Homo sapiens: one gene and its partners. The protein of the gene in region 1 purifies or fractionates together with the protein of each later gene. This does not show direct contact. Each region holds a gene or a part of one and is shown in the gene's direction. Other genes may lie near its edges.

Region 1 (4,640 bases):
TATGTTTCATATGAACGGGATTATATATCATACCGGCTTTTGTGACTGGATTCTTTCACTTGGTATAGTGCTTTCAAGATTTGTCTATGCCGTAGCATGTATCAGTACTTACTTCTTATGGCCAAATGATATTCCATTACATGGATACACTGCATTTTGTTTATTCGCTTGTCAGTTGATGGACATTTAGGACATTATTTACCCCTTTTGGCTATTATGAATAATGCTGCTATAAACATTGGTGTACAAGTTTTTGTGTGGACATTTCCCTTGGGTGTATATCTAGGAGTAGAATTGCTGGGACACATGATAACTATGTTCAGTTGAAGAACTGCCAGACTAATTTTTGAAATGGCTGCATCATTTTTTATTCACTCCAGCAGTGTATTAAAATTTCTGTTTCTCCACATCTTCACAAACAGTGTGTGACTTTAATTCTAGCCATTCTAGTGTATGTGAAGTGGTATCTCATTGTGATTTTGATTTGTATTTTCCTGTTGACAGTGATGTCCAGCATCTTATCTTATGCTTATTGGCCATTTGTATATCTTCTTTGGAGAAATATTTGTTCAGATCCTTTGCCATTTTTTTTTCCTGTTAGGGATCATTTTATTTTAAAAACATAATAGACTTTATTTTTTTTTTTGAGCAGTTTTAGAAAAAATTGAGAGGAAAGTGCAGAGAGTTCACATATGCTCCCCCTACAGTGCCCCTGCCCAGTTTTCCCCACTCTTAACATCTTGCATTACTGTGCTACATTTATTAGATTTGATGAACTGATACTTATATATTAACTGAAGTTCATAGTTTACATAAGGGTTCACTCTTTGTGTTTTATAGATTTTTGGATTTGACAAATGTTTAATGCCATGTACCCACCATTACAGTATTATGTAGAACAGTTTCATTGCCCTAAAAATCTCCTGTGCTCCACTTATTCTTTCCTCCCGTCCTCTTCCTCCTAACCCCCCAGTCATTACTGATCTTTTTGCTTTCTCTCTCACTTTGCCTTTCCCAGAATGTCGTATAATAGTTGTAATCATATAGTATGTAGCTTTTTCAGACTGGCTTCTTTCACCTAGCAGTATACATTTATAGTTCTTCTGTGTTTTTTCATGGCTTGATAGCTCATTTATTATTATTATTATTATACTTTAAGTTCTAGGGTACATGTGCATAACGTGCAGGTTTGTTACATATGTATACATGTGCCATGTTGGTGTGCTTGCTGAATAATATTCCATTTGTTTGCATGCAATGCAATTTGTTTATCCATTCTTGAATTACCCATTTCTAATTGAGTTATTTTGTCTTTTTATTACTGAATTGTAATAGTTCCTTATGTATTCTAGATACAAATCCCTTCTGTTCATCAGGGTTGCAGGATACAAGATGAATATACAAAAATCAATGGTATTTGACACACTTTAACTGAATACTACATACTTAAAATGAGCAATCAAAATGAAATTAAGAAAGCAACTTCATTTATAATAGCATCAAAAAGAATAAAATACTTAGAAATAAATTTAAGAAGTGTAAAACTTGTACTCTGAAAACTATAAAATGTTGTTGAAAGAAATGAGAGGAGATCTAAATAAATGGAAAAGTATCCCATGATCATGATTTGAAGGCTTAACATTGTTAAGATGGCAGTCCTCCCTAAACTGATTTACAGATTTAACTTGATCCCTATCAGAATCCCAGATGAGTTCTTTGTGAAATCTACAAGCTGACTCTCAAATTCATATGGAATTGCAAGAGACTAAGAATAGCCAAAACAATCTTTTGAAAATGAAGAACAAAGTAGGAGACCTCATATTAACTGATTTTAAAACTTACTACAAGACAATGGTAATAAGGACAATATAATACTGACAGAAGGATAGATGTATAGACTAGTGGGATAGAATTGAGAGTCAGAAATGAACCCATACATATATGATCAACTTATTTTTGACAAGGGTGCCAAGATTATTCAGTGGAGAAAGAAGTTTGAAAACTGGCACAGGGGCAACCAGATATGTAACCATATGCAAAACTTGGAGTTGAATCTTTACCCAACATCGTATACAAAAATTATGGATACAGAAAAATGGATCAGGCCAGGCGCGATGGCTTATGCCTGTAATCCCAGCACTTTGGGAGGCCGAGGCGGGTGGATCACGAGGTCAGGAGATCGAGACCATCCTGGCTAACACAGTGAAACCCCGTCTCTACTAAAAATTAGCCGGGCGTGGTGGCGGGCGCCTGTAGTCCCAGCTACTCAGGAGGCTGAGGCAGGAGAATGGCGTGAACCCGGGAGACGGAGCTTGCGGTAAGCCGAGATCGCGCAACTGCACTCCAGCCTGAGTGACAGAGCGAGACTCATCTCAAAAAAAAAAAAAAAAAGGATCAAATGAATCAGTTTTGAACTAATCCACTTAAATGTAAGGGCTAAAACTATAAAATCCCGAGAAGCAAACATAGAAGTAAATTGTCATGACCCTGGATTTGGCAAAGCTTTCTTAAATATGAGACCAGCAACAATAATAAAAATCAATGAATTGGACTTCATCAAAATTAAACATTTTTGCACATCAAAGGACACCATCAAGAAAGTGAAAAGACGGCCCACAAGTTGGAAGAAAATACTTGCAAATCATGCATAGCACTTTTTGATGGTAAACTTGAGGAAGACATTTATCTTTTATCCCTTACCTGTGCAGCAGTAACATCCTAATATCTCTCTCCCTGCCTCTTTTTGCCATTCTTTAAATTCTTTCTCACTTAATTTTCAGATTTAATATTGGCTGAAGCAGGGATAATGAGATCAATCAAAGGGGTCCTTAGGACACTAGTCACAGTGTTTGTACTAATACTGGAACTGGCTTATTTTCAGGCATTTCTAGTGTGATCAGATGGCAAAGAACAAGCATATATATATGTCAGTTGCCAGGACTGCTGGGAAAGCCTGGTAAAGAGAACACTGGGGAAAAGCAGCCTCCTGCTCCCCTGGGCCTTCTTTGAGCCTGATGATCACTTGATATGGAACTTACCCTCTGAAATTCCTTAATTGTTCTTTTCTATATCCTTGACACTGTCCTTTTCCAGACCAAATTATCTCATCTGGAATACTGCAACAATTTTCTTTTCTCAGTGCTTTTAGAATAACCTGTCAAAATCTCATCTGATTATAGTATTGCCTGCTTAAAACCTTTTAATTACTCCCCATTCCCTATCCGGGTTGTGTAGCTCACTTGAGCTCTGCTGGCTGGTGAGGGAATCTGGGTCCTTTTTCTGGTATTTGAATTCAGTGCTACACAGGTTACTGGCTGGGTAGACAATCTCAAATTGTAAATCACGAGTATTCCATGTAGATAGTCCATTACGATCTACAATAAAACATTGATGTTTGTATCAAAGATCATGGTGATGAGAGGTTGGGTACTGTACTGTCTGTGAGAATTTATTGAGGAAATTTAAGTTATATGGTTTTATTCACATATAGTGTATAACAACTAGTTAAGGGATAGATGTCTTCTTATCTGACTTTAAAGTAGGTAAAAGTGGATCATTGTACTTGTTAAAGGTCTGGGAACCATGGCTGTGTTCTGAAAATACCTCAGTGATGACAAATAAATGACTCCCAGCCTATCATAACATTAGGACTCCAGTTCATCCCTTTGCTTCATAAGTGTGTCTTTTCCTTTTGTGTATTTGCTTTAGTATAGAAAATAGGTTTTCTTGATTAGAAATCTAAGAAGAAGAAATTGAACACTGGAGATTTTTCTATTTCTTTGAATTACGAAAAGTTAGTGTAATTTGGCAGTATATCCCTGTGCCATTATTGTCTCTCAGGTAAGTAGATGGTAGGGCTTAGGAAAATAGAAAATTTTTTTTCCTATTTTGCTTATTTAATGGGTATGTGTTTGTATTAAAAAGGGAAAATAGGAATGTAGATGATGTTAACTAATCGTGAAAGTTATTGGGAAGGGTTACCTAATTTGAATAAAGGTATCATTGTGAATTTCTAGGTCTTGTTACATTGAAGCACTCCGCGACTCCCTTTTTAAAAGTGGAGCCTTTTCTTCCTGGACACTATGAAGTTTTGGATTTAAAGCCAAATGGCAAAGTTGCATCCGTGGAAATGGTTAAATATCATCACTGTCGGGATGTACCCCTGCACGCCCTCTATGACAATGTGGAGAAACTCTTTCCAGGTAGCAGACACCCACCCACCTATTCCCCATCCTTCTCCAAGGGAAAAAAATTTTAAGTTGTATTCTCCCATCATTTGAATGATTTTAGTTTCAAGACCTACTTCCTATTTTGTTTGGAGGGAACACATTAAGATTTGGCACACTCCACCATTGAGTAAATACCATCATGATAGATGTTGATGATTGTGTATTTCATTTCAATAACTAATCCAGCCCAAGATTTTCTGGAGCTGTTTGATTTACTGCTGTGTTTATAGGTTTTGAGATAGAAACTGTGAAGAACAACCTCAGGATCCTTTTTAATAATGCTGTAAAGAAACGTTTGATGACAGACAGAAGGATTGGCTGCCTTTTATCAGGTGAAGTCAATTAAAAAAACCTAATTATATTTCATGTGTGTTTAATTGAAATGATTTGTAGCCATCCCTTTGGTTTTTA
Region 2 (4,640 bases), on another chromosome or scaffold:
TGAGACTGGCTAATTTTTGTATTTTTGGTAGAGATGGGGTTTCACCGTGTTGCCCAGGCTGGTCTCGAACTTCTGGGCTCAAGCCATCCACTTTCCTCAGCCTCCCAAAACTGTTGGGATTATAGGCATGAGCCACTGCACCGGCCAGAATTTAATCTTTTGTATGTGAAATAAAATACATTCAGATAATCTTATGGTCTTTGTTAATTACTACTTGAAGATGGAGAGTACAAGTTGTATGCTGTAGGTATGGATTAGATAGAAACATAGCTTTATTCTAATGGGTGGAAGAGAATTGTTAAGTTGGTTATATATCATATTACCTTGTGTTAAACACATTATTAGATTGTAATATACACCATCTGTTTAATAACCATTTTTCAGGAAAAGGAAAGGAACACTACTATACCATTTATAGTGATTACAAAACATATCCTGATTGGAAATGTTACAACATGGCCCGGTGTGGTGGCTCACGCCTGTAGTCCCAGCACTTTGGGAGGCCGAGGTGGGAGGATCACTTGAGGTCAGGAGTTCGAGACCAACCTGGCCAACATGCCGAAACCCCATCTCTGCTAAAAATAGAAAAGATTATCCGGGCGTGGTGGTGTGTGCCTGTAATTCCAGCTACTTGGGAGGCTGAGGCAGGAGAATCGCCTGAACCCAGGAGGTGGAGGTTGCAGTGAGCCGAGATCATGCTACTGCACTCCAGCCTAGGTGACTAAGTGAGACTTTCTCAAAAAAAAAAAAAAAAAAGAAAAGAAAGAAATGTTACAATGTGAAAATATGTATTTTAATTTTTTTATTTTTTATTTTTTTTGAGATGGTGTCTCATTCTGTAGCCTGCCTTAGCCTCCGAGTAGCTGAGACTACAGCCACATGCCACCACGCCCGGATAGTTGTTGTATTTTTAGTAGAGACGAGGCTTCACCATGCTGGCCAGGCTGGTCTCGAACTTCTGACGTCGGGTGATCCGCCCGCCTCAGCCTCTCAAAGTGCTGGGATTACAGGCATGAGCCACCGCACCTGGCTTCTGTCTAGCTTCATTTGGCTCCTAAAGTCCTCTTTTTTTGTTGTTGTTGAATTAGAAAAAAATTTAACCCAAGATTATTGAGGAATAATTTATATAAAATATACCGATTTTAAATTACACTTTGTTGAGATTTAACAATTAGACGCGTGTCACCACCACCACAATGAAAAAAAGTTTCTCCAAAGAGTGCCGCCATAGTTCTTTGCAGTCAGTCAGTTGCTGTCATAGATTAGATCTGTCTTTTCTAGAATTTCCAATAAATGGAATCATACAGTGTATAATCTTTTGGTCTGGCTTAATGGTTTCAAGATTCATCCATGTTGAAATACCAATATGAACTGTTGGTGGACATTTAAGTTATTTCTAGCAGGTATTACTAATAAACCTGCCTAGAAAATATGTATGTAAGTCTTTGTGTGAACGTAAGTTTTTTTTTTTCTCTTCTTTTTTTATTTTTGAAATGGAATCTCGCTCTATTGCCCAGGCTGGAGTGCAGTGGCATGATCTCAGCTTACTGCAACCTCCACCTCCCGGGTTCAAGTGATTCTCCTGCCTCAGCCTCCCGAGTAGCTGGGAGTACAGGTATACGCCACCATGCCTGGCTAATTTTTGTATTTTTGGTAGAGACGGGGTTTTTGCCATGTTTGCCAGGCTGGTCTCGAACTCCTGACCTCAAGTGATCCACCCACCTTGGCCTCCTAAAGTGCTGGTATTACAGGCGTGAGCCACCATGCCTGGCCTCTCTTGCCCATTTTTAATTTGAGTTGTTTGTCTTCTTATTGAGTTCTAAGAGTTCTCCATATTCTGGATGCAAGTCCCTTTTCAGATATATGTTTTGTCAGTATATTTGGATCTGGAGCTTGACTTTTTGTCTTAACAATGTTTTCAGAGAACAGAAGTTTTTAATTTGATGAAGTCTAATTTATGAAGTTTTTCTCTTATAATTCATACTTTTTGTATCCTAATTAAGGACTGACTGCCTTTCCATCTCAGGGTTACAAAGTTTTTTTTAATGTTTTCTTCTAGAAGTTTTTTTAGCTTTAGCTTGTATATTAAGGTCTGTGATTAATTTTGATTTAATTTTTGTGTATGATTGAGATAAACGTGAAGGGTCATTTTTTTTTCCAAATGGATATCCAGTTGTTCTGACATCATTCATTCACTTACTTATTTTTTGGAGAGACAGGGTCTTGCTGTGTTACTCAGGCTGATCTCAAACTCCTGGCCTCAAGCTTCCTCCCACCTTGGCCTCCCAAAGTTCTCTAATTTCATTTATTGAAAGGCTTTACCTGTTGAAACACCTAGGTAGCTATATTGAAAATCAATCCATCATATATGCATGGGTCTAAAATTTTGAACTGTATTCTATTCCATTCACTTTATATGTCTGTCTTTATGCCAGTACTATACTGTCTGGGCTTTATAGTAATTCTTGAAATCAAGTACTTCCTCATATTTTATTCTTTTAAAAATTGTTTTGGTTATTGTCGATCATTTGCATTTCCATATAAATTTTAGAATGAGCTTGTCACAGTTTGGCATTTCCATCATTGATAACAAGCTATTTGTGAGAAATTTCTCAACTGATCACACTATATTGCTGAGACACAGAGTTGGGAAGTTGATGTTTTTGATTAGAATTTAGAGGCAGAATAGAAAGATCCAGTTTTGAATCCTGATGCTATCACATACTTTGAGTGTGATCTTGGATGAGCTTCAAGTATCTGATTCTTTGTTTTTTCATCAGTAAATAAGGATAGAAATGCCTATTGTCTATGATTGTTGTGAGGAAGAATTTGAAAAATGTATATAAAATTATCTGCAGAGGGGCTTTTGCATACTTGGCTCAATCAGTGATAGCTGTTATTCCCTATTATTGTCATTGTTAGTGCATTCTTGAGGTATAGATGGCACATCTTTCATTTCTGGAAGGTAAATTGTTTCCAAATATGTGTTTCACAAGAAATAGCCTATTGACCATATGTCAAACAGGTAAGTTAACTTTATCCTTTCTAGCAATCTATTACATGCCATTCTGGTGAATGAATAAAATTTAATTTTTGGTCTAAGTATTTTCTTTTGTATTCTACTAGAATCTTGAGCTCAATGATGACACCATTCTGAATGACATAAAGTTAGCAGATTGTGAACAGTTCCAGATGCCGGATCTGTGTGCTGAAGAGATCGCTATTATTCTTGGAATCTGGTGAGTTAATGACTGACTTGGCTGCTTTGAACACTTTGCATATTGATTCTCTTATGTGTGGAGAATCTTTATTCAAGGAGGTTCCAAGAGTTCTGGATGAATAGGGAATTTTGTAGTGCTTATGAAGATCAGAGGAAATACTTGGAGAACCAATTAAAGGGTTAGATATTACAAATCTCCAATGAGTTGATATATCTATTCTTCTGTTTCCTTTATAAGCACAATTTCTTTGGTTAGCTTTAGCTAGGAATAGATTATTAATAAAATATTAAAGACAAATGAGAATGACTATTTTGAGATTTGAGGATATTTACATTTCAAAGGATAGGATTATTTTTTAATACTGTGGAACCTTATCTATGGTGGAAATAGTTTTAACTTTTTTTTCTGATTAGAAATAATTTCAAATTTGTGAAAAATGTTTAAGGGCAGGACAATACATATAACTTCTAAGAATAAGTTTCCAAGATGATGCTGTATCATTCCTGAATAATTTAGTGTATATTTCCAACAAATAATGTTATTTTTGTACATAGTCACAATACAGCTATCAAAATCAGAAAATTAATGTTGGTACTTTGCTATCATTTAATTCTCAGACCCCATTCAAATTTTGCTAGTTGTTCAGATACTCTCTTTTAGAAAAGATCCAGTCTAGAATATATGTATTACATTTAGTTTTCTTGTCTCTTTAGTCTTTGTCAGTCTGGAATAGTTCCTCATTTTTGCTTGACTTGCATGATCTTGACACTTGAAATTTACAAGTCCATTACTTTTAGACTTTCCTTCAATTTGAGTTTGTCTGATTTTTTTTTTTTAATAGTTGGATTCACCTTATGCATTTTTTTTTTTTTCCTAAGATGGAGTTTTGCTATTGTTGCCTAGGCTGGAGTGCAATGGCACAATCTTGGCTCATTGCAACCTCCGCCCCACGGGCTCAAGCGATTCTCTTGCCTCAGCCTCCTGAGTAGCTGGGATTACAGGCGCACACCACCATGCCCGGCTAATTTTTTTGTATTTTTAGTAGAGATGGGGTTTCGCCGTGCTTTCCAGGCTGGTCTCGAACTCCTGACCTCAGCTGATCCGCCCGCCTCGGCCTCCCAGAGTGCTGGGATTACAGGCATGAGCCACCACACCCGGCCACCTTATGCGTTTTTAGCTGGGATGTCAGAGAAATGAAGTTTTGTTATTCTCATTGCATCCTAGCAGGTAGAATATGATTTGGGTTTGCCCCACTACTGGTGATGTTAACTTCAATCACATGATTAAAGTGGTGTTTGCTAGGCTTCTCCAAAGTTATTCATTTATTTTGTAATTAACATTTTATTGACCAGGTGCGGTGTCTTATGCCTGTAATGCCAGCACTTTGGGAAGCCGAAGCGGATGGATCACCCAAGGTCA
Region 3 (5,259 bases), on another chromosome or scaffold:
TTTTTACATTTCTGTCATATCTTATACACAATTTTTACTACACTGAGAAATTTATTCTTAAAGTAGTGATAAATCAACTCATTTTAATATAAATTCATGATTTTATAGACTATATGACTTGGCTTAAATAGATCTTTCTGAGAAATCAGGAAAATTTGAAAGCCATCAATAAATTATTTACTCTTTGATAATGAAAATATTTTAATAAAAATGCTAAAAACACTTAATTTTAAACCAAAATACAGTATAGTATCTGGTAAAGAGATTTAAACCTATGTTGCAAAGATGATTAAAATGATTCATACGCAATGACCCTTTATAGAGATTCATTTAAATTAAAATTTATTTTTCTACATCAAAATGAGGAGATCATCATGACTAAGAAATTTTGGATTACTAAATTCTTAAAAAATTGTCCACTTTTAAAATTCTATTAAGGTACAATAAATCAAACATATACTATGTTTTCTTTATCATTTATAGAAATTTAAAGTATGATAACAGGTATTTCTTGTTGAGGTGATTAGCTTGTCTCTCATACATTGGTGTTTGGAGAATTGTTTACTGAAACATTTGAAATGGTAATCCACAAATTGTTTAACTTTTTTATTATACCATCTGAGAATATGTTTGCATATTTGTGAAAACAATTGGAAACTGTCTCAGTTATGTTCATTTTGAGAATTACTATGTTTTGGTGGACACATTTGCTGGAATTTTGTGCAGATATTTTTAAAATATTTAAGTTTATGTGGTTACTATGAGATATTATTAAATAAATAAAACATGTTCGGAGTAATGTGTATAATACAAACTCATTTTTTGTAACAACAAACAGAAAGAGTTACATGTTGGTAAGTATATGTGTCTTTGATTGGTTATGGAAAAAATTATTAGGCATTTATTCCATACTTTTAACATCTTTTAACCTCCACAGATTTAGAATTGTTTTTCTGGAAGAAATTGTTAATCTTCTCTTTTATACATTTCATGTTGTTTTCCTCATTTTAATGCCTTCGTATTATATTTCTAAATATAATTTTCTTTTATAAAACATGCAAATTTTATACGAAGAAAAACAGCATAAGTAAACTTAAAGACTATTTATATACAATGTGGTTCCATTTAAAAGATAGATAATGGATGCCATTAATTCATAGAATATATAATACATTTCTTTATGTTAATACAGAAACAAAGCCTGATAGAAATATAGTCAAAGAACAGGCAATTCATAGGAGACAAAAATATATGGCCAATAATAATAATAAATATAGTTGACTTTAATATTAGGTCATCATATTTGCCACAATCAAAAAAGTCTCCAGAATTCTCAGTTTTAGAAAGGATTTGGTTAAATATCTACTGTCTATAAAATTGTACGTTTCTAAAGTATTTTATCTCTATCGTAATTTTAATGTTTGTAAGTTTTGACTTGTGTTTTATTTGTAGAATATATGGAAATAATTCTACATATCAATAAATTGGCTTGCTTGTAGTAAAAATGTTGCAAGCATATTAAATATCTTTCAACAGAATTTGAACATCTTTCAACAGTTAAAATTATACTGTAACACGATGCAATATTTTGAAGCCATTGAAATATTGAGACTGATCTATTTTTATATTAAAAATTATTAAGACATTTATAAGTGAATAAAAACAAATTGCCGAAGTGTATGCTAGGATGATCTAATTTATATTATAAACTCCAAATCTAAATTATTATATTATTATAAATACTATATATGTGTACATTTAAATAGAAATAAAAAGGTCTAGACAGAATTGATAACTATGTTTTCTTCTGTAAATAGGAGAAAGACTGAGGAATGGTAAAAGTTTAGCAGTAAGAAGAATTATGTCTATGTTGTTTGAATTATATACAGTTAGATTGTATTCATGTATTTATTCATGTATTATTTGTGTAAATAAATAAATAAATATAAAATTTCCAAGGAATATAGGAGTTTGTCAAGGGGCTATGAGGGAACAATGAGGCTGATTGATTAGTTTTGGAAGCCTAATAAAACAAGAGTAATAGCGGTAGACATCCCTGTACTTTTTGGGGGAGAAATATGCCTAAGATAATAGAAACATCTGGTCCACCTAACAGATAAATTATTTTGCATTCAAATACATTAGATACCAAAAAGATGCAGGTTATTGACATTGTATGCCTTTGATTTAATATTTATTAAGCACTCATCTAATAATTTTGCATTCTCTTTAACTTGCTTAATAGGGAAATTGGGGTGTTTTCTGCTCAACAGACATATCTGACCTGTATGATAATGGAATTTCTCATTATAAGTCAATAAACTTTTGTTCTTTCTGTATCTTTCAGTCTTATGATGTAATCAGCGCGATTTCACTTCCTGAATTTCGATGAATTCTAAGACATGGGCAAGATCGGGTTGTAAGACCTCTGAGATTTAAGGCCATGCCCTGGATCATGGTGAACTTACCAAAGCAAACAATGCCTGTGAGATGGTCCTGCAGCAGCCAACCAGTGAACTCTTTTGGTGACATCCTGTTCTTGTTGTATAACTTTATATTCCTATAAATCCATTAAGGCCCCAATAAAGTTTGTCTCTAAGCGCTGTGTTAGATCTATATGACTACATCTAGTAAATTGTGAATTTTAAGTAAATATTTTATAAGAACTCCTATGTAAAGCATTACTAAAATTAGTGTTGAAATATGACCTTCTTCCTACATTTATTCATTTATTTATGTCTATTTATTCATTTATTTTAGTGAAAAATATAAGGAAAGTAGAGGAAGGTTAAATCCAAAAAAGAATTGTTTCCAGTACACTTTCTTTAATTTGCTGTCAGTTTTTGCATGGAATCTACATCTTTTTATGCTAATCCTCATCCTAGTATTTTACATCTTAACTATTTTTTTCTGACTGAAATGGTTGATGTGCTTGTTTTTTGTAATTTTCTACTTTCCTTCTAAAATGCTTAGTATTGAACAAATAGAATATCCTAATTAAAAACAGTAATAAATATTATGGTGAAAAAATACAAGTAAAATGGGAAAACATTAGATAGCAGCTTTCAATATTTCATATAGTTCATAAATGTTTCAGGAATTACAAGGTTATAGAAAAAAATTTATAGACTATAATAATTTCCAGGGATATAAAAAAATAAAGCTTCTACCTTTGAATTGTAATAATAAAAGATAAACAGACTTGAAAGCATATATTATATCTGAAAATGTCAGATAAACTTGGCTTATAAATTAAAATATAAAATAATAATACAATTTGTTCAAATAAGTAATTAAAGCTTACATTGTAAAATGAATATTTAGAGAGATTGTGAAACCTGAGTATTTTACCCAATCCTCTGAAATTAGTCCCTAGCATCAGAATTAAAGAATCTGAAAAATCACAAATGGAGGTATGGTGACATTTATGTATATTCTAGAGTTATGTTATGCACACTTAATAAATTATAGACAGTTATTTTAAAGATTGTATAATATTACTAATCACACATTAGAGTTTTAAAACTTCTGAGCCAGGCTGAACATCACAAACAGTAAACACAGACTTCTTTAAAAGGACATCTGGTGAAAGGCATTTTATGCATCAGAAGGCACAGTATTATAAAGATGACAACACTCTTCAAAATAATCAAACTATTCAATGCAACCCTTATCAAAATTAAGGTTGCCTACTTTGAAGAAATTTATAACCTGATTCTAAAGTTCATATGAAAATGTAATGGACCCAGAATAGCCAAAACAATCTTGAAGTATACAAAGTTTGAAGAGTCACATTTCCAAATTTTAAAACTTATTACAAAGCTACAATAAACAAGTCTATGTGGTACTGGCATAGGATATAAATATTGATCAATGAAATAGAATCCAAAGTCCAGACATAAGCCCTCACAAAAGTTAATTTGCAGCCAATTAACTTCTGAGAAGGAGGCAAGACAAAAGGGGAAATAACTATTTTCAATAAATGGTACTGGGACAACTTGGTATCTACATGCAAAAAAAAAACAAAAAAACAAAAAACTTCCACCCCTACCTCATGCAAAATACAAAAATTAACTCAAAATAGGCCAAAGACTCAAATATAAGGGTTACACTATAAAACTCTTGGGAGGAAATATAGAATAAATTTTTGTGACCTTGAATTAAGTATTAGATTTTTAATTCTTACACCAAAGCACAAGTTAATAAAGGAAAAAAAAGATAAACTGGACATAATTAAAATTGAAAAAAAATTTGCTTCAGTGAACACAGTCAAGAAATTTGAAAGACAGCCACAGTGCAAGATTATTTTTGCAAATAATATGTCTCATAAATGACTTGTATCTAAAATATATAAGACCAGGCATGGTGGCTCATCCTGTAATCCCAGCACTTTGGGAGGCTGAGGCAGGGGGATCACTTGAGGTCAGGAGTTTGACACCAGCCTGGCCAACATGATGAAACCCCATCTTTACTAAAAATACACACACAAAAAAAATTAGCAGGGTGTGGTGGTGTATGCCTGTAATCTTAGCTACTCAGGAGGCTGAGGTGGGAGGATAGCTTGAACCTGGGAGGCAGAGGTTGCAGTGAGCCAAAATTGCACCAATGCACACTCCAGCCTAAGCAACAGGGCAAGACGCCATCTCAAAAAATAAAACAAAATAATAAAATAAAATAAACAGTAATTACCGCTAAATAATAAAACAAACAATAAACCAATTTTATAACGAAAGGATCTGAATAGATTCTTCTGTAAAGAAGACATACAAATCACAAATTACACATGAGAAGATGCTCAACACTATTAGTCATCAGGGAAATGCAAATCAAAATCACAAAGAGACAGCAATTTATACCCAGTAGGATACTTATTATTATTATTATTTTAAATAGCAAAATAATAAATGTTAGAATGTGGGAAAACAGGAACATGCGGCATTGTTGCTGGTAATGATAAATGTGCAGCCACTGGGCAAACAATTTTGTGGTTCCTCTCTAAGTTAAAAATAATGGCTGGGCGTGGTGGCTCACACCTGTAATCCCAGCACTTTGGGAGGCTGAGGTGGATGGATCACCTGAGGTCAGGAATTCGAGACTAGCCTGACCAACATGGTGAAACCCCATCTCTACTAAAAAATATAAAAAATTAGCCCAGCTACTCAGGAGGCTGACGCAGGAGAATCCCTTGAACCTGGGAGGCAGAGGTTGCAGTGAGCCGAGATCCCACCACTGCACTCCAGCCTGGGCATGACAGAGCAA
Region 4 (4,640 bases), on another chromosome or scaffold:
TGAGATCTGTTGGTTTCATAATGTGGAGTTTCCCTGCAAAGGCTCTTGTCCTGTCTGTGCCATTTGAGACATGCCTTTCAACTTCTGCCCTGATTGTGAGGCCTCCCCCGCCATGTGGAATTGGGTCTTACTTTTGTAAATTGCCCAGTCTCAGGTATGTCTTTATCAGCAGCCTGAAAACTGACTAATATAGTAAGTTGGCACCAGTAGAGAGGGGCACTGCTGAAAAGGTACCCGAATATGTGGAAGCAACTTTAAACTGGGTAACAGGCAGAGGTTGGAATGGTTTGGAGGGCTCATAAGAAGACAGGAAAGTGTGGGAAATTTGGAACTCCCTAGAGACTTGTTGAATGGCTTTAACCAAAATGCTGATAATAATATGAACAATGAAGTCCAGGCTGAGGTGGTCTCAGACAAAGATAAGGAACTTCTTGGGAACTGGAGCAAAGGTGACTCTTGTTATGTTTTAGACATAAAGCAAAGAGACTGGAGGCATTTTGCCCCTGCCCTAGAGATTTGTGGGACATTAAACTTGAGACAGATTATTTAGGGTATCTGGAGGAAGAAATTTTTATGCAGCAAAGCATTCAAGAGGTGACTTGGTTGCTATTAAAGGCATTCAGTTTTAAAAGGGAAATACAGCATAAAAGTTCAGAAAATTTTCAGCCTGACAATGCAGTAGAAAAGGAAAACCAATTTTCTGAGGAGAAATTTAAGCTGGCTGCAGACATTTACATAAGTAACAAGAAGCTGAATGTTAATCACTAAGACAATGAGGAAAATGTCTCCAGGGCATGTCAGAGACCTTTGTGGCAGCCCCTCCCATCACAGACCAGGAGCTTTAGAAGGAAAAATGGCTTCGTGGGCTGGTCACAGGGTCCCTCTGCTGTGTGCAGTCTAGGGACTTGGTGCCCTGTGTCCCAGCAGCTCCATCCATGACTAAAAGGGGCCAAGGTACAGCTTGGGCTGTGGCTTCAGAGGGTGGAAGCCCCAAGTCTTGGCAGCTTCCATATGGTGTTGAGCCTGGGTTCACAGAAGTCAAGAACTGAGGTTTGGGAACTTACACCAAGATTTCAGAGGATGTATGGAAATGCCTGGATGCCCAGGCAGAAGTTTGCTGCAGGGGCAAGGCCCTCATGGAGAACCTCTGCTAGGGCAGTGAAGAAGGGAAAAGTATGGTGGGAGCCCCCATACAGAGTCCCTACTGAGGCACCACCTAGTGGAGCTTTGAGAAGAGGGCCACTGTCCTCCAGAACTCAGGATGGTAAATCCACCACGCACCTGGAAAAGCTGCAGACAATTCCAGCCTGTTAAAGCAGCCAGGAGGGGGCTATACCCTGCAAAGCCACAGGGGCGGACCTGCTCAAGGCTGTGGGAGACCACCTCTTGCATCAGTGTGACCTGGATGTGAGACATGGAGTCAAAGGAGATCATTTTGGAGCTTTAAGATTTGACTGCCCCACTGGATTTCAGACTTTCATGGGGCCTGTAGCCCCTTCGTTTTGGCCAATGCCTCCCATTTGGAGTGGCTGTATTTACCCAATGCCTGTATCCCCATTGTATCTAGGAAGTAACTAACTTGCTTTTGATTTTACAGGCCCATAGGTGGAAGGGCGATGTTTCTTTCTGGAGGCTCCAGGGAGAACTCTGTTTTCTTACCTTTTCTGGATTCTAGAGGCTTCCCACAATCCTTGGCTTAAGGTCCATCTTTAAGCTTTGTCTCTGATGAGACTTTGGACTGCGGACTTTTGAGTTAATGCTGAAATGAGTTAAGACTTTGGGTGACTGTTGCGAAGACATGATTGGTTTTGAAATGTGAGAACATTTAAGAGGGGCCAGGGGCAGAATGATATGGTTTGACTTTGTCCGCAGTCAAATCTCATCTTGAATTTCTATGTGTTTGGAGAGGTACCCGGTGGGAGGTAATTGAATCATGAGGGCAGGTCTTTTCTGTGCTGTTCTCATGATGGTGAGTAAGTCTCATGAGATCTGATGGTTTTATAAAGGGGAGTTTCCCTGCCCAAGTTCTTCTCTTGTCTGCCATCATGTGCGATGTGCCTTTCACCTCTGCCATGATTATGAGGCCTCCCTGGCCATGTGGAACTGTGAGTCCATTAAACCTCTTTCTTTTGTAAATTGCCCAATCTTGGGAATGTCTTTATCAGCAGTGGGAAAACGGATTAATATACTAATTTATAGCTAGTAGGTAAAAAGCCAGGGACTTGCCATTAGCGTTGGAAGTGGGGTTGTGGGGGCAGTCTTGTGGAACTGAGCCCTTAACCTGTGGGGTTGAATGATATCTCCAGGTATATCATGTCAGAATTGAATTCAATTAGAGGATACCTAGCTTGCGTTCAATGCAGAATTGCTTGCTGGTGAGGAGAAATCCCTATACACATTTTGGTGACCAGAGGTAAAGCATTTTATGTTGATTCTTGAGTGAGAGAGTAGAAATAACACTGGTTTTTTCCCTATGTCCTTACAACCACCAATTGGATACATTGTTTCAGTATTTTGAAATTTTTCATTTAATTTTTATAAATTTTCTTTTTAAATTTTAGATTCTACAATATCTCCAATTCTTCAGTTTATTCCCTCTTACTATGTATAAGTATTTCCCCAAGTTTCACTTTATCTTTCTATTACTTTTTTTACATAATAGAGCTATAAAGGCAATTCACAATTCTCTCTTTTCTCATATATAATATAGAGCATATTATAAATACTCTACTTTGGAAAATTATTCTTTATAGGAAATTACAGATAATATTTGATGAAGAAAATCGAATATAATCATTTTTCAATACTTAGGATAACAGATTCAGGCAAAGATAAAACATTAAAGGAAAAGTTAGTGAAAACTATTAATATATAGTGGAGGCATCACGTTGTTATGAACTTCATTGATCAATACTGATACCACTAAAAATGGAACAACATGTAATTATGTGCTCAATGTGATGAATATGAAGTAGACTGCACCACTCTGCAGTACAGTCAGGAAATAAGAAACCAAGTCCAATCAAAATAGCCCTAAAGCTACCTTCCAGTTTATAAAAAGTATGAAGAATAGAGGGGCAATTAAATGATACCATAAAGAGTCAAATACAGGGCATGCAACATAGCTGCTGATTGGATTTATTCAACATGTCAGTGGCATGAATACAATAGGAGGCAGGTAGGGAGAAGGCACTACCCTGAATTATGAGACTGAAGAGATATAATAAACAAATGCAATGTGTGGACTTGGTTGGGATCTTCATTCAAAGACCAACTATAAAAAGACATTGTTGTGAGAATTGAGGAAATTTGAATGAGAAATGTATTTTTATCTAATTTGTTAGCTGTGATAATAGTATTGTGGGAGTAAGAAGCTATTCATATTTCTATATATATATACCAAGTACATAGGAGTGAAATAATACAAAATCTGGAATTTGCCTTAAAATTCCTCTGCAAAATTATAAAAAAGAACGATGACAAACTAAAAAGGTGTAGTATTCTTCTATGGCTGCTATAACAAATGACCAAAAAACATAGTGACTGAAAATAACCCACATTTATTATCTTACAGTTCCATAGGTTAGAAGTTCAACATGGGTCTCATGAGATCAAAAGCAAGGCCTTGGCAGGGTGACGTTTCTTTCTGGAGGTTCCAGGGGGAACTCTGTTTTCTTACTTTTTTTAGATTCTAGAGGCTTCCCACAATCCTTGGCTTAAGGTCCATCTTTAAAGACAGCAACGTTTCATCTCTCTACCTATTCTTTCATCCTTACATCTTTCTCTAACTATTCCTTTTCTTCTGTCTTCCACTTTTAAGAGCCTTTTTGAGTCTATTGAGGCCAACTGGACAATCAAGGATTATCTCCCTATGTTAAGGTCAATTGATTAGTGACCTAATTCCATCTACAATCACAATTCCTCTTTGCCATATAATGTAAAATATTCATACCTCTAAGGATTAGGACATGGACATCTTTGAGGGTCATTAGTCATCTTACCACAGGAAGGAAGGAAGGAAGGAAGGAAGGAAGGAAGGAAGGAAGGAAGGAAGGAAAGGGAGGAGAGGAGAGGAGAGGTAGGAGGGAAGAAGAAAAAAATAGTATGAAAAAATCTTGATAAATTTGAAAACTGGGTGAATAATATGTGGAATTCTCTCTATTTTTGTTAATGTTGGAAAATTTAATAAAAACAATGAACAGTGATGACTTCGGTGAGAATTTATGTCACCTGCCTCAAAATTTATGACTTCAATAACACCTTGTATGTAATATTTTTCACCATATATTCTGATGTTGGAAACAATCCCTTCTGCCTTTGTATTAGTCCATTCTCACACTGCTATGAAAAATACCTGAGACTGGGTAATTTATAAACAAAAGAGATTTAATTGACTCACAGTTCTGCATGGCTGGGGAGGCCTCAGGAAACTTACAATTATGGCAGAAGGTGAAGCAGGCGCCTTCTTCACAAGGTGGCAGGAGAGAGAAGAAAGGAAAAGTAAAGGGAGAAGAGACCCTACAAAACCTTCAGCTCTTGTGAGAACTCACTATCACAAGAACAGCATGGGGGAAATCATCTCCATGATCCAATCACTTTCCACTAGGCCTCTCCCTTGACATGTGGGTATTATAATTCAA
Region 5 (3,831 bases), on another chromosome or scaffold:
GCGACATCACATGAAGTGACAGGCAGGCCCTTGGAAGCCGGTGCTTAGATCCTTAATTAGTTCACACGTCGACTGAATTTTCAAGTGAATGAATTTTAATTACATCTCAGGTTAAAAAAAAAAAAAGGCGCCAGTGATCGAGGACTCGTCACTGGGCTCTGTTGCTCCTGAAGTTTCCTAGCCCACAACACACCAACACTGCCAAGGGCTCTTCTGGATTCAAGGTGAAACACATGTGCCATAAATCTTGGAGCTCTGAATGTTTGGAAAGGGCCCGACTGTGAGAAGAAGTAACACACCGTCCCGTGCAGATGGCTGGCTCTGAGGAGGAGTTCATGGGAGCTTGGGGACACTCTTGCCTCTAGTTCTAGGAAGCTGGGCCACTTCTGAAGTAATGGCAATATCAATAAAGTAATGGTCTTTATCATAGAATAACGTGATAAAATATATAGAGAAGTAAAAAAGTATAAATAAAAGTAAAATCATCATAAAACATAGTAGCTAGGCACTTCTGAAGCTGTGTGTGCACTGATTCATTCACCCAGTGACTCACAGCCTTATAGCCTAGGTGCTGGCACCCCTACTTTCATTCGAGGAAGTGAACTCAGGTTCAGGAATTTACCCAGCATCCCCCAGATGGGGTGGCAGGAGCCACATCTTCCCTGAAAACTTTCTTGCCCAGGGTGTCTGCTGGGATTTAGGAATGGTCTATGCCTGCATTTTTATCCTGGTCAGGCTGACCCTGAACCCTGAGAGATACTCTTTTTTATATTCCCATCTGGAATATGCACTGCCGGGGTCAGTGGGGTGTCTGGAGGGCCCTCTCGAGGCCAGCTTGGATGTGACACGTGTCGTGGGTCCCAACGGGGCCCAGTAGAGTGTGCAGCGTTAGAAAAATGAACATGCTCGGCTGGGCGCGGTGGCTCACGCCTGTGATCCTAGCACTTTGGGAGGCCAAGATGGGTGGATCATGAGGTCAGGAGATCAAGACCATCCTGGCTAACATGAGACCATCCTGGTGAAACCCCATCTCTACTAAAAATACAAAAAATTAGCTGGGCGTGGTGGCAGGTGCCTATGGTCCCAGCTACTCAGGAGGCTGAGGTAGGAGAATGGTGTGAACCTGGGAGGGGGAGCTTGCAGTAAGCGGAGATTGCACCACTGCACTCCAGCCTGGGTGACAGAGTGCGACTCTGTCTCAAAAAAAAAAAAAAGAAAAAAAAAGAAAAAAAGAAAAATGAACATGCTCATGGTGACCTCTGGGCAACTTTGAAATAGCCTCAGTTTCTCAACAGCCGTGCCAGGGGGCGGGGGTGGGGTGTGGAGAGTGTTAGAGTTGAGTTTCAGCACCAGTCCTTGAAAGTGCCTTTCAGAAGAACAGGTTTTATCCCCCAAACAGAGAGACAGTGGTCAGTTCACCGTACTTCGGTGCACGTTTGCAGACCTGGTGGGAAGAGGGGCATCTTAGAGCCGAGACCCATTCACTCTTGGCACTCCAGGTGGAGCTGGGCCTTTGGGGCCTGGATATATCCAGGGCTGCGGATTTTCCCCCCTTCAGGTTTAAATGTTCCTGTTTTTCTACCTTTCCCTCGCAGTATACGCTCAACGGCAAGAAAGTGGAAGTTGCCGTCAAACAGATCATCGCTGGAAAAGCCGTGGAGCAAGGAGGTGCTTTCTCGAACCCCGAGACCCTGGATCTGTACCGGGACATCCCTGAGCTGCAGGGCTTCTGAGTCAGACTGGCTGGCGTGTCACTCAGCCGCACCCGTGTGCACTGTAACTTTTGTGTGCTCAAGAAATTATACAGAAACCTACAGCTGTTGTAAAAGGATGCTCGCACCAAGTGTTCTGTAGGCTTGGGGAGGGATCGTTTCTCTGTTTTGTTAAATCTGGTGGGTACCTGGATCTTCCACACGAGTGGGATTCTGGCCTTCAGAGACCAGGAGGGAGTGTCTGGGCCGCAGGTGTGGCACTGTGGTGAGAGTGTGTGTCTTTGCACACACAGTGCAGCGGGAACGGTGGGGCTGGCTGGTGCTGAAGACAGACACACTCCTGAGCCAAGGTCTTGTCTTCAACCTCCCCGTCCCGTTGTCCCATTTTGCTCTGTGAAGGTGCAAATCCCTTTCTTCCCTTCCCATCTCAGGCTCTCCTGTTTTCCCTCAGGGTCCAGTATGCCTTTGAGCTTTAGCTGTTAGAAAGGAACCCCCGTGACTTGACACAGCTTTCACAGCTGGCTGCTAGGACCGGCGGGCTGGGTGTTCACGTGTGTCTGTGTCATGGATGCAATGCAGGCCCTGGAGGACTGTGCGTCACCCGTCAACCAGAGCGTGCCTCCGGGCCAGCTTCCCTCCAAGGAATGAGTGGATTTCATACAGGATCTCTTTATTGCACAGACTGAATGGCTTTACATGTTTCTAATGTGAATTAGGCATGTGAAGCAGTGGGTGTCCACCCGTGTCCCTCATGGGTGAGCCCTCCAGCTGTGAGCCCAGGCAGTGTGGTCACCGAGTGAGGACCCTCCTCACCAGGAACCGCATCCCTGTGCTGCCTCCACCTGAGAGTTGCTAGGGGGTTCTTGTCGAGATCATGTCATCAGCACCCCTAAGTCAAGTCACGGGTTTCCATAGCCAGGCAGTTGGTATGTACAATTCAGTTCAGCGTATGAACTTGTATCTCTAATCTGATGTCCATTTTTATATTTTTTGAAACTGAGCACAATGAAATCCTTTCTTGAATCATTTTCCTTTTGGATTATAAAAATATGGGGGAAAGTGCTATGATGAATTTTATGCAATAAATGTATACATGTGTGCACATGCACCCATGCTGTGTGTGCAGTGTGCTGGTGTGTTTTCTCTGGAGGGGGGACCGCATCTGCGTGTGTGAGGCTGGTGGTGCTTGTGCGCCCGCCAACAGCTGTGCCCTGGAGTTGTGTGGTTCGAATTGTTGGGGGCACTTCCCAGGGCCCTGGTACTTACCCACATTCCCTTGTGACCAACGAGGAGTGCTGCTCAGTGTGAAGCCAGCACCCTGGGCCCCCTCCACCCTGAGATCCCCCAACACCCAGCGCCAGCCAGGTTTCTGGCTCCTTTCTTGTCATCGCAAGAGCTGCATGTCACTTGGGTTGTGTGTGGCTACATGCCACGGGATCCAGGCTTGGCCCAGCAGCGTTTATGGCTCTCACGTCACAGGAAGTTGGAGGCAGTCCATTCTCCCGGGGCCGGGCAGCAACTCCACAGTGCAGCAGTCCTGGCTCCTGTCTGCTGCACTCTGCTGTCCTCAGGATGTGGCAGTCATCATCTTGGCCCTGCCTGGCTGCCCCACCTCTAGTCTTTCATCCGTGCTGTAGGCAGGAAGAAGGTGGGAGTGAGAAGGGGGCTGGGTAAAGGCAAAAAGCTGCATCTCTGGAGTGTGTCCCTTTTTATCTGCAAAATGATGGCTTTTCTGGAAAGCCGGCAGCATCTGCTGGGCCTCACCAGCCAGCCTGGGGACACGCAGCCGCCTTCGCTGCAAGGGCATCCGGGGGTCTGAGTATTTCAAAGAGGACCTGTTCCCCTTTTTTGTGAGTTTCCAACAGCTGCTGTAACATTTCCACAAAGGCAGTGGCTTAACACAGCCCCAGTTTATTACAGTCCTGGAGGTCAGAAGTCTGCTGTGGGTCTCACTGGGCTGAAATCAGGGTGACAGCAGGGCTGTGTTCCTTCAGGAATCTGCAGGGGAGAATCCATTTCCTTGCCTTCTCCCGCTTCTAGAGGCCACTGTGTTTCTTGTCTGGTGCCCTGTTGTCTTCAGCAATGGCCGGTCACACCTTCCTTCCACTGTAGCTCTCTG
Region 6 (4,640 bases), on another chromosome or scaffold:
ATCATACAAAACCATAGAAAAATTTAAAAGACATGTACGACCAGGTGCGGTGACTCATGCCTGTAATCTCAGCACCTTGGGAGGCCAAGTCAGGTGGATTACTTGAGCCCACAAATTCAAGACCAGCCTAGGTAACATGGTGAAACCTCATATCTACCATAAATACAAAAATGAGCCGGGTGTGGTGGTGTGTACCTGTAGTCCCAGCTACTTTGGAGGCTAAGGTGGGAGGATCCTTTGGGCCCAGGAGGTTGAGGCTGCAGTGAGCATTGAATATACCATTGCACTCCAGCCTGGGCAGCAGAACAAGACCCTGTCTCAAAACAAAAACAAAAACATGTACAGATGCTTCTTGACTTGTGATGGGGTTATATCCCAATAAACCCATTGCAAGTTGAAAATATTATAAGTTGAAAATGGATTTAGTACACCTAACCTATCAAACATCATGTCTTAGCCTTGCCTACCTTAAGTGTCCTCAGAATACTTACCTTAGCCCACATTTGGGCAAAATCATCTAACACAAAGCCTATGTTACAATGAAGTCTTGGCTGTCTCCTGTAATTTTTTGTACTGTAGTGAAAGTGAATGGTTGTATGGGTACTCAAAGTATGGTTCCTACCAAACACGTATCTCTTTTGCACCATCTTAAAGTCGGAAAATCATTAAGTCAAACCATTATAAGCCGGGGACCATCTGTATTTGACTTTGGAGTGCTTTCAGAACATTTGGTGGGCATTTAACTATTTGTTGAGTTAATGGATTACATTTGCTCATTCTGATATTACTTTGTATAGACCATCCAGAGAATCACCAGTTACGAAGAAGTAAGTTGACTTTTGTGTGAGGATATTCTCAAAATGAAAAATCAGCTGATGGGCCAAAGTATCTTAAAGTCTGTTTTAAGTAAACATTGATCTCTGTGCTTTAGTGCCTTTTAGAATAATTATTCATGTTTACTTCCTTTCAGACCTCTAACCTAAATCTCTATTTTATTTCATGTTTCCCTAAAGACTCACTAGTGGGCATATTTTTACGTGCATTTGATGAGTTGACTAGTGGTTTTTAATGATTTTCCCTGATATGAATGGCCAAAAAACAGATGTCAGTCTGTTAACCTGTTGCATTTGTGGCTATTAAGAGTGTTTTCTATGTGTGCTCTCCTGCTTTTGAGCCAGAAGAGCAATTTCAATTAAATTTTAAAGTGGTGAAATTGGAATGGAATGTGTAAACTGACAGAGGTCATAAGACTAGTGAAACTGCTGGGATAGGTGATAGAGAAGCCCAAAAGCAGGAGGCAGAGTTGATTTTGGACATTTTTCTTAAACATTAGATGGGATTTGTTGATGGGAATTATTGTTTGTGGTAAGATCATTTGAAAAGTTTTCTTTGCTCTGTGTGCATTATTGGCACCCTCTACAGCTTTGTTAGAAAGTTGGATAGGTAATAAGAACCCAGGACTGGCAGTGGAGATGGCACTTGGAGGGATATGTGTTACTGATTTCCCCGTAATGAAGGAGAGAGGCTAGACCAGGTGATTTTATTGTTTTTTGTTTTCCAGTGCTGAAAATTGTATGACTCTCTCATATTTTGGTTAAGGCTGTTGTTATAAGATACTGGTCACTTTAATCCTTGCATAGAAAGCAGTTTTTAAAGTTAATCTCTGCCTTTTAAAATGGTACAAAATTTGAAGTATTTCAGCCTTTTATAAGCTGAATATACTTTTAATGTTCCAAAGAATAATTTCGTTTGTTTTGTTGTTGTTGTTTTTTGCTTTTGGAACAGGGTCTTGCTCTGTTGGCCAGGTTAGAGTGCAGTGGCATGGTCATGGCTCACTGCAGTCTCAAACCCCTAGAATCGAGCGATCCTCCCTCCTCCCATGTAGCTGGGACTATAGGCACGTGCCACCACACCCAGCTAATTTTTTTTGGTGTTACTCTGTTGACCAGGCTGGTCTCGAGTTCCTGGCTTCAAATGATTCTCCTGTCTCAGCCTCTCAAAGTGCGGGGATTACAGGGATGAGCCACCATGCACACTCCAAGGAGTAATTATAACAGTATTTTATAATTATTAACCATTTATAAAAAGATTTTTTTAGTGTTTTGCTTAAAATAATGGATAGCATGAACAAGAAAATTGAAATATTACTTTGTATTAAAACAACATTTTATTTAATCAGAGAAAAACTGGCAAAGAGAGTAACAAATTTTATATTGATTTGTTACTTGGTTTAAGAAGAAACATCAATTTTGATATATAGTTATATAAGTAGAATTAGAATGCTTCAAATTTGCCAGATAATTGCTTCAGTACTTACTCTTATCTTTGTTTATAATCCTCTCCTGTCATGTACACTTTTAATTATTGGAGAATTAAAAATTGCTATTTTTTAAGTAGTCCTTAAATAATTGTTGAATGCCTGAATGATTGTTCATAGTTTAGAGAAGAAAAAATGTTTTAATGTGATCATGATTTCTAATCTTTCTTATAATTGGTGGTATTGCCTTTTATACTTCTCCATGAAAAGGTATTATAATTAAGATGTTGTATCTTAGTGTGATTTAGTAGTATTTGGAATTCCTTATAATAGAAAACAGAGCAATTGTTTTAGGTTTGAATACCTACATTACTGAACTTTCTAGAGTCTCTGAAAATTGAAGAGCAAAACTTGAATAGCACCCCTAAATACATTCTGATTTACAAAGGATGCCTTATCAAAGTTTATATTATGCTGTTTGGCTTATTTTTTATATTATATGTATGTATAATATGTATATATTATATATAATATGTATATATAATAAATATAATATGTATATAAATATATATATAGTATTTATATGTACTCCAGACTGGGCAACAGAGTGAGACCCTGTCTCAAAACAGATATGTATATCTATATATATCTCTCTCTATCTACCTATCTACCTATCTGTCTATCTATATCTGTCACCCAGGCTGGAGTACATGTAATTATACTATCTTATACTATCTGTCTATCTATAATAGATCTATATATCATATCTATATATATAATATATATATATATGTTTTGAGACAGGGTCTCACTCTGTCACCCAGGCTGGAGTACATATAATTACATTGTGTATATACGTGTGTGTGTATATATATATGTATGTATATAGTATCTACTATATATAATATATAATATATATTATTATTTTGGACATAGATACTATTTATATATAGTATATATCTATATATTATCTATCTATATTATCTAATTAGATATCTAATTAGATCATATAGATATAGATACTATATATACTATATTATATATAGTATATTTAGTATATATAGTGTATATAGTAACTATATATTATATATAGTATATATATAGATACCTGTTTTGAGACAGGGTCTCACTCTGTCATCCAGGCTGGAGTGCGGTGGCATGATCACTGCAGCCACTCACTGCAGCTTCTAACTCCTAGGCTCAAGCGATCCTCCCACCTTAGCCTCCCCCAGTAGCTGGGACTACAGGTGCATGCCACCATGCCTGGCTGGCTTATTATATTGCTATGTATTCTTTTTGTTTTTATTGTTGTAGGATACCCTCTGGTTTCATAGGGGATAATCCTTAAGAGTAGAAAAGTTCACAAATTTGTGTGGTGCTAATTTTATAAAAGAGAGATTTATTTTAGGTACAAATATTTATCTAGTTTTTATTCTAAAATCCTTGGCTTTTCTGGCCCGTTGGATTGCTTTTATGAGTGCTAATTTCTTCTTTAATATCTTTTTGGCTGGGTATGTGGTGGCTCATGCCTGTAATCCCAGCACTTTGGGAGGCCGAGGCAGGTGGATCACTTGAGACCAGGAGTTCGAGACCAGCCTGACCAACATGGCAAAACCCCATCTCTACTAAAAATACAAAAAATTAGCCGGATGTGGTGGCATGCAGTTGTAGTCCCAGCTACTCAAGAGGCTGAGACATGAGAATTGCCTGAACCCAGGAGGCAGAAGTTGCAGTGAGCCAAGATCATGCCACTGCACTCCAGCTTGGGGGACAGAGTGAGGCTTTGTCTCAAAAACAAACAAAAAACTTTTTAATAATTTGTGACTTCTGGCTGTTTCCAGACAGAAAGGGTTAGCAGTCTCCCATTTTTAACCAGGAGAGAGCATTCTTGAGCATCTGTAGGAAACAGGCACTAATTAAGGAAAGGGCTAAACTAGGATAGATCTTGGAAGCAAAAAATAGTTGAATTTAGGATACTTTGGCAGGAGTGAAACTGTTAATCCCAAATCTTCAAATGTGAGGGTTTCCTATGCATGTGAATTTATGTGCACTTCTGATTTTAGTACAGCTTAATTAACACTGCAGCCCAGTTACTGTTTAGTTCATTGCATAGTACAGTACTGGGCTCTAGTTCTGGGTTGGATCCTGCCAGTTACATGAGCAAGGCACATAACTTTTGTGGATTCATCATTGGCACTAGTAAATTAAATGGGCTTAAGTAAGGGGATAAATTAAGTTCACTCTTTGAGAGCAGACCAGCATATCCCTGTCTGCTTCTTGCAAACTCATTAGTTCTTTGAAGTTATCTAAACAGATTTTGAAAGTTATGTTCCACCATAGTGTAGCCTTCTAAAATAAAGATTACATTTTAAATTAGTTGCCA
Region 7 (4,640 bases), on another chromosome or scaffold:
TTCCTGAAGCCCTTTGGAAGCATCATGATTGCCAGGCTTCTGACTTGTTCTGTTTTGACCTTTTAGGTTCAGGAACTGCTAGAAAAAGCATCAAATCCCAAAGTAAGTAGATAGCTGAATTCTTTAATTTGTATCTAAATCTTGGCTCTTTAGTTGAAAATTAGACCCATCCTGGTGGTTGAGTTGTACAGCAGTTTTAGGGTGGTTGACTTTAGATTGGGCCAGGGATAGAAATGTCAGCTTCCTCCTTGAGCCCCAAGTAATTCTCAGCTAGATTTTTCTCTTTGTTCAGACTGTCGTTTTCTCATTGGTGGCTGTTTGGAAATGGTGGTTTCAGGAGCTTGCTGTAATCTTGGATCTTTTCAAGATTTGAAAGCTTAAATCAGTTCATCCTAGATGGGCAATATCTGAAAGATGGAGGGAATTGATGGGAACAAGGAAGGAAAACAGAACAGAAGCCTTAGATTTTTCTCTATCCTTTTACCTCATTAGGAGGCCGGGTGAAGATTGTGATAGTTTATTACATTTAAGGAACAGAGAGTGGATGTGAAAGGTGACAGGGAGTGCACGAGGCGTTTGAGCCAGCAAGGCCTCTATAAAATCTGAATTACACATGGTTACCTTTTTCCCCTCAGATTCTGTCTTTGTGTCCTGAGATCAAATGGCACTTCATTGGCCACCTACAGAAACAAAATGTCAACAAATTGATGGGTAAGATAAAATTAAATATGAAAACAAAATTGTTCTGTCATTGTATTGCTTCTACTACCCTTTGTGGAAGAGAGAGCAACTTTTAGAATAGCCCCAATTCACCATTTGTTTTTGGAATTTCTTTAGGAAAGTCTGAGTTCTTAATAAAAAGAGAAAACATCATGCCAAGAACAGAATGAATTCACCATTTTCTGGGTTATATATACTTGGAAACCTACCCAACCTCATGTTTATTATTATTTGGTGGTCTTTCAGAAAAATTATAAAGAATTGTAGCCCATAAATTTTTTTAACTAGCAAAAGAGACATTTCTGTTCTTTTTCCTTTAAATAAAAGGCTACAGTAAATAAAATACAATACAGTAAAGTAAGTATAGTAAAGTAAAATTAAGAATTATAGTAAAGTAGGCCAGGCGCGGTGGCTGACACCTATAATCCCAGCACCATGGGAGGCCGAGGCAGGCGGATCACCTGAGGTCAGGAGTTCAAGACCAGCCTGGCCAACATGGTGAAACCCCAACTCTATTAAAAATGCAAAAAAATAGCTGAGCGTGGTGGTGCATGCCTGTCAAGTCCCAGCTACACAGGAGGCTGACGCAGGAGAATCGCATGAACCCGGGAGGCAGAGGTTGCAGTGATCCAAGATCACGCCACTGCACTCCAGACTAGGTAACAGAGCAAGACTTCATCCCAAAAAAAAAAAAAAAAAAAAAAACAAGAATCATAGTAAAATAAAATTAAGAAAGACATGGAGATCTTGAGTAACTGAACTTATTTCCCTTAAGGTATAAAAATTTAAATAACCTGTATATATTTTGTAACAGCTTTATTAGGGAGGTAAGTGACTTACAATACATTGCACATATTTAAAGTATAGAATTCGACGAGTTTTGATGTATGTTTGCACCTGTGAAACCATCACAACAAACAGTGAGCATATCTATCACCCCTAAAAGTTTCCTCCTGTCCCTTGGTAATCCCTCTCTTACCTGTCCCACTTCTCTTCCTCAAGAACCACTTACCTGCTTTTGTCACTGTTAATGTACGTGAGTTTACATTTTTTAGAGTTTTATCCAAAGGGAATCATGAAGTATGTACTCTTTTTTGTCTGACTTCTTTCATTCAGTGTAGTGATTCATCATGTTCATACCTGTATCAAAGGTTCAATTCTTTTTATCATTCAGTAGTATTCCATTGTATAAGTATATTACAATTTGTTTATCCATTCACCTGTTGATGAATGTTGGGTTGCTTCTGATTTTTGACTGTTGCAAATAAGTTGCTATGAATATTTGTGTACGAGCCTTTGTATGGATATATTTCCCTTTTTCTTGGAATAAATATATAGGAATAGAATGGCTGAATCACAAGTTAAGTGTTATGTTTAACTTTTTATAACTGCAATAAAACAAACATAAAATTTACTGTCTTGATCTTTTATTTACTTTTTTTTTTTTTTTTTTTTTTTTGAGATGGAGTCTCGCTCTGTCGCCCAAGCTGGAGTGCAGTGGCGTGATCCCGGCTCACTGCAACCTCCACCGCCCGAGTTCAAGCGATTCTCCTGCCTCAGCCTTCCGAGTAGCTAGGATTACAGGCACATGCCACCACACCTGGCTAATTTTTTACGTTTTTAGTAGAGACAAGGTTTCATCATATTGGCCAGGCTGGTCTCGAACTCCTGACCTTGTGATCCACCCGCCTCAGCCTCCGAAAGTGCTAGGATTGCAGGCATGAGCCACCATGCCCGGCCTATTGATTTTCAAATGTTAAACCAACCCTGCACTCCTAGGATAAATCCTACTTGAAGGCTGGGTCTCTATTAATCTTATTATATGTCATATAAACAAAATAACTGTGTTATGGGATTTATAACTATGTAAAAGCAAAATGCATGACAACAATAACAGAAGGGGATAAACAGAAGTACACTATTGTAAAGTTCTTAAACTGTGTGAAGTAGTGTAACACACCTTGAAGGTGGACTGTTGTAAGTTAAACCCCAAAGCAACCAATAAAATAACACAATAAAGAGTTATAGCTTATAAGTCAACAAAGGAGATATATTGGACTCAAAAAATGTGAAATGGTATCTCCTTACAGTTTTGATTTTCTTTTTTTTTTTTTTTTTTTTTTTTTGAGACGGATTCTCACTCTGTTGCCCGGGCTGGAGTGCAGTGGTGCGATCTCAGCTTTCTGCAACCTCCGCTTCCCAGGTTCAAGCAATTCTTCTGCCTCAGCCTCCCGAGTAGCTGGGACTACAGGCGCCCACCACCACGCCCAGCTAATGTTTTTGTATTTTTAGTAGAGATGCGGTTTCACCATCTTGGCTAGGCTGGTCTCAAACTCCAGACCTCATGATCCGCCTGCCTTGGCCTCCCAAAGTGCTGGGATTACAGGCGTGAGCCACCACGCCCGGCGGTTTTGATTTTCATTAATAACGAATGATGTTGAGCATCTCTTCATGGGCTTATTGGCCATTTTTATGTCTTCTTTGGAAAAATGTCTAGTCAGTCCTCTGCATGTTTTTTAAATTGAGTTGTCTTTTCATTATTGAGTTGTAAATTCCAGCTAGATTAAATAATCTAACTTGAAAATAAAAGCTATAAAAGTATTAGAATAAAATGCAGGAAAATATTTTTATTTTCTTGGGCTTTTCTAAGCAAGACATAAAATCTGGAAACCATAAAAAAAACAACTAGGCCAGGCACAGTGGCTCACACCTGTAAATCTAGCACTTTGGGAGGCCAAGGCAGGTGGATCACTTGAGCCCAAGAGTTTAAGACCAGCCTGGGTAACATGGCAAAACCCTGTCTCCACTAAAAATACAAAAAATTAGCTGGGCGTAGTGGTGTGTGTCTGTGGTCCCAGCTACCTGGGAGGCTGAGGTAGGACGATCACCTGAGTCCAAAAGGTTAAGCCTGCAGTGAGCTGTGATTGTGCCACTGCACTCCAGCCTGGATGACAGAGGAGACCCTATCTAATAATAATAATAATATTAATAATAATAAATTTTAAAAGAACAACTAGCAGATTTGATCACACAAAAATTAAAGCTTTCTGCATGTCAAAGCAAAAGGGAGGCACAGAGTGGAAGAAAAATAATATTTTTGAAGAGGGAAGAGATTCATATCCAGAATACATAAAGAGCTACAAATCTTTTTGTTTATAGGGAAAAAAAATAGGCAAAAACTGGGGCAATTTATAAGGGGTAAAAATACAAAAGGCCAGTAATCAAATGAAAAATATTCATCCTCAGAGAAATACAAAATCACTAATCAGATTTGTAAAAAATCAAAAAGACTGCTAAGATCCAGTGTTTTGAGGGAGTGAGTAAATGAGTACTCCTTCGTCTTACCAGGAGATTCTAAAACCGTAGAGTCTTGGAAAAACATAAAGATTCCACCAAAAAACTATTATAACTGAAAAACAACTTCAGTAACATTGCAGGATACAAAATAAATATACAAAAATCAGTAGCATTTCTATATGCCAACAGTGAATGATCTGGAAAAGAAATCAGGAAAGTAATCCCATTTACAATAGCTACAAATGAAATACCTAAGAATAAACTTCACCAAAGAAGTGAAAGATTTCTGCAATGAAAACTGTAAAACACTGATGCAAGAATTTGAAGAGGACATGAAAAAATGGAAAGATATTCCATGCTCATGAATTGGAAAAATCAGTATTGTCAAAATGTCCTTATTGCCCAAAGCAATCTACAGATCCAGTGCAGTCCCTATCAGAATACTAGTGACATTCTTCACAGAAATAGAAAAACACAGTCCTGAAATTTATATGGAACCACAAAAGACCCATAATAGCCAAAGCCATCCTGAGCAAAAAACAAAGCTGGAGGAATCACATTACCTGACTTCAAATTATACTGTAGAGCTATAGTAACCAAAACTAGCATAAAAACAGACACAT

Evidence for each region.
Region 2: the proteins of ASNS (region 1) and TTC27 fractionate together in Homo sapiens (co-fractionation; one large-scale study listed by BioGRID). This does not show direct contact.
Region 3: the proteins of ASNS (region 1) and NBDY purify together in Homo sapiens (co-immunoprecipitation; one study listed by IntAct). This does not show direct contact.
Region 4: the proteins of ASNS (region 1) and KYNU fractionate together in Homo sapiens (co-fractionation; one large-scale study listed by BioGRID). This does not show direct contact.
Region 5: the proteins of ASNS (region 1) and AACS fractionate together in Homo sapiens (co-fractionation; one large-scale study listed by BioGRID). This does not show direct contact.
Region 6: the proteins of ASNS (region 1) and FAIM fractionate together in Homo sapiens (co-fractionation; one large-scale study listed by BioGRID). This does not show direct contact.
Region 7: the proteins of ASNS (region 1) and PLPBP fractionate together in Homo sapiens (co-fractionation; one large-scale study listed by BioGRID). This does not show direct contact.

Annotation. Positions count from the first base shown.
Region 1 is NC_000007.14:97,858,775-97,863,414, reverse strand, and holds part of ASNS (asparagine synthetase [glutamine-hydrolyzing]), read left to right. Parts: intron 1-4,016; coding exon 4,017-4,202; intron 4,203-4,459; coding exon 4,460-4,561; intron 4,562-4,640.
Region 2 is NC_000002.12:32,669,146-32,673,785, forward strand, and holds part of TTC27 (tetratricopeptide repeat protein 27), read left to right. Parts: intron 1-3,126; coding exon 3,127-3,239; intron 3,240-4,640.
Region 3 is NC_000023.11:56,814,973-56,820,231, forward strand, and holds the end of NBDY (negative regulator of P-body association), read left to right. Parts: intron 1-2,347; 3' UTR 2,348-4,207; downstream 4,208-5,259. UniProt on the Homo sapiens protein: Promotes dispersal of P-body components and is likely to play a role in the mRNA decapping process.
Region 4 is NC_000002.12:143,051,629-143,056,268, forward strand, and holds the end of KYNU (kynureninase), read left to right. Parts: 3' UTR 1-4,205; downstream 4,206-4,640. UniProt on the Homo sapiens protein: Catalyzes the cleavage of L-kynurenine (L-Kyn) and L-3-hydroxykynurenine (L-3OHKyn) into anthranilic acid (AA) and 3-hydroxyanthranilic acid (3-OHAA), respectively. Has a preference for the L-3-hydroxy form. Also has cysteine-conjugate-beta-lyase activity.
Region 5 is NC_000012.12:125,140,497-125,144,327, forward strand, and holds the end of AACS (acetoacetyl-CoA synthetase), read left to right. Parts: exon of another isoform or gene 1-432; intron 433-1,595; coding exon 1,596-1,733; 3' UTR 1,734-2,820; downstream 2,821-3,831.
Region 6 is NC_000003.12:138,614,621-138,619,260, forward strand, and holds part of FAIM (fas apoptotic inhibitory molecule 1), read left to right. Parts: intron 1-4,640. UniProt on the Homo sapiens protein: Plays a role as an inducible effector molecule that mediates Fas resistance produced by surface Ig engagement in B cells.
Region 7 is NC_000008.11:37,765,645-37,770,284, forward strand, and holds part of PLPBP (pyridoxal phosphate homeostasis protein), read left to right. Parts: intron 1-66; coding exon 67-102; intron 103-635; coding exon 636-711; intron 712-837; coding exon of another isoform or gene 838-890; exon of another isoform or gene 891-2,134; intron 2,135-4,640. UniProt on the Homo sapiens protein: Pyridoxal 5'-phosphate (PLP)-binding protein, which may be involved in intracellular homeostatic regulation of pyridoxal 5'-phosphate (PLP), the active form of vitamin B6.